Linked DNA regions of Homo sapiens: region 1 is linked to region 2. The links come from fine-mapping of genetic effects on gene expression. A gene starts in region 2. The other region holds a variant in brackets. All regions are shown on one strand. Distances are between the middles of the regions.

Region 1 (3,022 bases), 130 kb before region 2:
TTCAAAGGCAAAACAAAAATGAGAGGAGGCAGCCAAAATAGTTAATCATTAAGAAGGTAAACAAGCTTATATGAAGCAACATACTCTTTTTTTTTTTTTTTGAGATAGAGTCTTGCTCTGTTGCCCAGGCTGGAGTGCAGTGGCACGATCTCCGCTCACTGCAACGTCTGCCTCCCGGGTTCACGCCATTCTCCTGCCTCAGCCTTCCGAGTAGCTGGGACTACAGGTGCTTGCCACCACGCCTGGCATTTTTTTTTGTATTTTTAGTAGAGACGGAGTTTCACCAAGCAACATACCCTTAACATTCAATTTAAAGATGCTGTTTGATGCACTCAGATTAATTTGATCAATGTCAATGTTAAATGTATGAATTTTTTCCTGTATCAGGAATATTATGAAACAAAGTTCAAGACTATTGGAAAAGGCAAGTAATACTTGGTGTGTTTCAAGCTTTCATATTAAGAATGATAACTTCTAAATACAGTATTATCTTTCAGTTTTTAGAATGATTTTTATTTGGCATTTATTTTTGTATTAAATGTTTCCTTTTTTTTTTTTTTTTTTTTTTTTTTAGACAAGAGGCTCACTCTTTTGCCCAGGCTGGAGTGCAGTGGTGCAGTCTTGGCTTACTGCAACTGCTACCTCCCGGGCTCAAGTGATCTTGTGCCTCAGCCACCTGAGTAGCTGGGATTATAGGTGTGCACCACCATGTCCAGCTAAATTTTTTGTAGTTTTAGTAGACGAGATTTCACCATGTTGGCCAGGCTGGTCTCGAACTCCTGGCTGCAAGTGATCCATCTGCATTGGTTTCCCAAAGTGCTGGGATTACAGATGTGAGCCACTGTGCCCACCCTATTGTTTCTTTTTTAATTTCTTCTAGTATCCCGTGTCTGTGTCAGATACAAATCATTTTTATACATTTTCTCAATATATAATTTTTTTTTTTTTTGAGATGGAGTTTCGCTCTTGTAGCCCAGGCTGGAGTGCAATGGCACTATCTCAGCTCACTGCAACCTCTGCCTCCCGGGTTCAAGCAATTCTCCTGCCTCAGCCTCCCGAGTAGCTGGGATTACAGGCTTGCACCACCATACCCGGCTAATTTTTGTATTTCTTAGTAGAGATGGGGTTTCACCATGTTGGCCAGGCTAGCGTTGAACTCCTGACCTCAGGCAATCCACCCTCCTCGGCCTCCCAAAGTGCTGGGATTACAGGTATGAGCCACCACACCCAGCCTCA[A/G]TATATAATTTTTATACTGTATTGGTTCATACTAGTAATAAGCCATAGGTTTATAATTGTATCTTTATTTTTTAAACAGAAAATCTTTTAAAGTTTTAGTATAACTCTATTACAAAAAGATGATTCACTATTTATTTTTATTTTTAATTTTTTTAGAGACATGGTTTTGCTCTGTCACCCAGGCTGGAGTGCAGTGGCATGATCCTACCTCATTGCAACCTGGAAGTCCCGGACTCAAGTGATCCTCCCTCCTGAGTAGCTGGGACTATTGGTGCATACCACCGTGCCTGGCTAATTTTTTTTTCCTGCCATCTGTGTTTTAATATATTTTTTAAACAGAGTGCAGTGGTGTGATCTCGGCTCACTGCAACCTTTGTCTCTTTGGTTCAAGGAATTCTGCCTCAGCCTCTTGAGTAGCTGGGATTATGGGTGTGCGCCACCATGCCTGGCTAATTTTTGTATTTTTAGTAGAGACAGGCTTTCACCATGTTGGTCAGGCTGGTCTCGAACTCCTGATGTCAAATGATCTGCCCACCTTGGCCTCCCAAAGTGCTGGAATTACAGGCCTGAGCCAGTGCACCTAGCTCTAGACCCCCAGTCTTAATCATAAGCAAATACCCAAGGATTACCAGTTATTTGAGGAAAGCATCCAGCATCAAAGGTGGGTGGTGGGAATTAAGCAAAACAAAAAAGCAACTTGGAAGAAATACAGACTTTGCAGGGGAAAAAAACAGTTACCAACAATCTCCTACCCCAATTACAGATATATTCAGAGAGATGAGATGAAGATGAATAAAAACAGGATGCTCTATAAAGGACTAGCCATAAAACTTACCAGAGACTTGGGCAGGGAGAGGGGAAGGTAGGTAGGGAGAGGTCGTTCAAATGAGTACAAAGTTATAGTTAGGAGGAATAAGTTCTGGTATTCTATTCCACAGAAGGGTGATTATGGTTAATAGTAAGGTATTGTAGCAAAATTGCTAGAAGAGAGGCTTTTGAGTGTTCTTACCAGAAGGAAGTGATAAGTGCGTGAGATGATGGACATGCTAAATACTCTGATTTGATCATTATATAACATATATATGTATTGAGGCTGGGCATGGTGGCTCATGCCTGTATCCCCAGCACTTTGGGAGGCCAAGGTGGGCAGATTACTTGAGGTCAGGAGTTCAAGATCAGCCTGGGCAACATGGCAAAACCCCATTTCCACTAAAAATACAAAAATTAGCCAGGCATGGTGGTGCATCCTGTCATCCCAGCTATTTGGGAGGCTGAGGCAGGAGAATTGCTTGAGCCAGGAGGCAAAGTTTGCAGTGAGCTGAGATCACGCCACTGCACTCCAGCTTGGGTGACAGAACGAGACTCTGTCTCAAATAGCAAAAGAAAACAAGACAAAAAAACCATATATATGTATTTAAACCTCAAATTGTACCCCTCAAATATATGTAATGACAATGTGTCAATAAAAAAAAAAGTCCAGCTAGAAAATGAAAAAAGTTTAAAACATGATAGTGGAAATGAAAATCTTTGGAAGGTTGTAAGATAATGGTCAGGAAATCTCCTAAGAAGTAGGCAAAAAGACAGAGGACACTTAGCTGACTGTTCCTGAGGTTCAATGTTTATACAGTTGAGTTGCAGATAAAATAGGGGAAATGAAAAGGTGAAAATAATTCAAGAAAACGACCAACAGTAGAAGATTGAAGTTTGCAGATTGAATGTGCCTGCCATGTGTTCAGTCTAATAAATATACCCACACTGGGGCCCATCATTAGGAAATTTCAGGACA
Region 2 (2,783 bases):
GTGCTATTTTGCAACCATGACAAATGCTGGCAATAATGCGAACATTTACTGAACGCCATGTGGCAAGCCCAGTGGTATGCGCTTGACAAGCATGGCATCTTCAGGCCACCTCTGAGGTAGGTACTGTCATCATTATACGATTTTACGGATGAGGAAAGTGAGGCTGGAGAGTCTAACCCCTCCAAAGGCAAACACAGCAAGAAGGGCACGAATATGAACTCAGGTCTGCCCCCAAAGCCAGAGTATTTAACAACTTCTTCAAACTGTTCTCAAGGAAGAGTCGCCAAACCCCACAAAAATCACTCGATCACCCCTCTTCAGCATACAAAATGTAAAGCATCCGAACAGCCTGCACCTGCAACTTTACAGACCAAGTTGTAAGCTCTCTCTACTCCCACAAAAAAAGGGTGGGCTAGCGTGGGGTGGGGGGAGAAGGCAAGAATCGGTTCCCAGCAAAGTAAAAAGCGAGAAAAGGGCCAAGCGCCCACGAAAGAAACCAATCTAAACTCGAAGCAAAGGGACCTAAATGCTTTAGAACTAAAACGGCAGAAAACCAACCAAGAAAACGAAAATGAATTCAGCAGAAGACCGACACAAGGTAACAGAGCGCCGGTGCAAAGGAAGCGGTCACAACGGATGCTGTATTTTATTAAAACCACACAGGCAGACCAAGAAAGTCGCAAGAGTTGAAGGAAAAATGCAAAGTCGGCTCCACAGACCTCTGGTTTTCAGACCCGCTGCTCGGGGTGAAAGGCAGAGCGCGGCCCGCACCTTCTCTCGTTAAATAGCCATTCGAAACGCCACAGAGAACGAAAGGGCTGAGGAAAGTGTCCGCGCCTCCGGGACCGCCATCGAGTTACCACCACTCGCTTGCTGGGCGCGGCGCGTGGAGGGGGCGCTGGTGCGACTCGGCTGCCCTACTTGCCGTCGGCACCCAAGTTTGTGCCAAGTCACAACGCGCGTTATCGGCAGCAGCAACGCCACTTCAGCCTCGCCGCCGCGGCGCCGGCACTTATCGGCGCCCACGTCCCGCCCCGCGCGTCCGGGAAGGTTCCGCGCCGGGCCCCGCCCGTCCTCACCTGCCCAGCTCCCGGCCCGGGCACAGGCTGTAGCCGTCCTGGAAGGGCTCGGTGCGCACCACGGCGCGTATCTCTGTCAGCAGCCCGCGGGCCTGGGGCGGCGGCGGCGGCCGGCACGGCCCGCTCAGACCCCGGCCTGCCCGGCCCGAGCCTGAGGTGGCGCCTGGGGAGGAGCCGCCGCTGCCTGGCTTCTCCAAAGGGATCATGGTGTTCAGGCCCGCTTCTTTCCTGGCCGCCTGTTCACTCCGAGCAGCCGGAGGGTCACGGACCCGCCCCCGGCTCCTAGTGCCGGTCCGCGGAGCCTTCAAACACCCGCTCTCCCCAGCGCGGCGCTCGGACTGCGGCAGGCAGACTACCGGTAGCTCGGGCCCGCCCCGCGCCCCGCGACCGGCCCCGCCCCCGTGACCGCCCCGCGCCTGCCCTGCACCCTGCTTCTGGCCCCGGCCAACCCCTCCCCACGTCCGCCCCGCGCCCGACCCCGCCCCGGCCTCACTCCGTGGCCGCCCGCCCCCTCGCTGAGCTCCCGCGGGGTCCTGAGCGCCCGATGCCTCACGCGCGCCCTCTGCAGCTCAGGGGGAGAAGGTGCAGCTTTCGGGACGGCCCGGAGGCTGGAGGCGACTCACAGCACCACCCTTTGGCCAGGACAGCCTACTGCGTTAGCAGAGTTGCGCACCTGTTGAGCGTCTGAGAGTCACAAAAGCTGACCTTCGGTTAATAAAAGGCATTTGAGCTGTAAGCGGGACTTCACGTGGTGAGGAGGGGAGGGGTCTGGAGGCACTTCGGTTAATAAAAGGCATTTGAGCTGTAAGCAGGACTTCACGTGGTGGGGAGGGGTGATGAGATCCTGATCTCCGTACACTGGGAGAGGGGTCTGGAGGCAGAGTTGTATAAATATTATTAACCCTGCACACCGGCCCTATGAAATAGACACTATTATATTGTCTGTAGTCGTCTCTATATTTACTTTCGAGGTCCTCTCATCCGGTCTTACGACTTTAATTACCATCTATATGCTCATGACTACAGAATTTGTATCTCTAGCTTCCAAATATTCCCTGAACTTCAGACTGGTGTATTTGACTATGCATTTGGCATCTCCACTTACATGTCAAATTAGCATCTCAGACTTAACATACACAAAAGTAAGTTGCTGATTGGTCTTCATGAATGCACTCCTACCCAGCTTTCCCCGTCTCAGTTTTCTTCATCTCCTTCCTTCTAGCTGTTCAGGCCAAAAATCTTGGGATGAGCATTGATTCCTCTCTCATGCTCATCTCCAGTTTGTCAGTAAACCCTCTTGTCTTTTCCTTCAAACTAGATGCGGCGTTTGATCACTTCTCTCTATTTCCACCTTACCACCATGGCCTGAGCCATCGTTATCTCTTACCTGGATTATTGTGATAGTTTACTAACTGGACCACCTGCTTCCATCCTTCTTTCTCCCTAATGTCGCATAGTTCATTTTCAAGGCAATGAGAGTGATCTTTTAAAAATCGAAACCAAATCACACCACTGCTCTACTCAGACTGTCTCAGTGGAGTTTTGCTTCTGGCACTGATATACTAGTTTATTTGTGTTCAATATTCTCACTAAGAAAAAATAGAAAAGTTGACAAAAGTTAAAAATTTCCTCTCCCAGCAAGGACTTGGATGACTGAAATCCTGGAAAGATAGGCAGCTCAGAAAGCCACCACTTTTCCCATGA

What was found. PIP is the estimated chance that this variant, and not a neighbour inherited with it, causes the effect.
Region 1: its variant is the best candidate, but not a certain one, in a credible set for the expression of STK17A in whole blood (INTERVAL, PIP 0.73).

Annotation. Positions count from the first base shown.
Region 1 is chr7:43,712,557-43,715,578 of GRCh38, reverse strand. The region is part of intron 1 of COA1 (cytochrome c oxidase assembly factor 1); the gene reads left to right. Among named protein-coding and RNA genes, the nearest start is that of COA1, 15 kb to the left of the region's middle. The variant A/G (reference allele first, on the strand shown) is at 1,237.
Region 2 is chr7:43,581,746-43,584,528 of GRCh38, reverse strand. It overlaps STK17A (serine/threonine kinase 17a), which reads right to left and starts at 1,421. Exons shown (of 7, transcript NM_004760.3): 1 at 1,080-1,421. The coding sequence starts at 1,285. RefSeq lists enhancers at 332-441, 572-621 and a silencer at 1,022-1,801.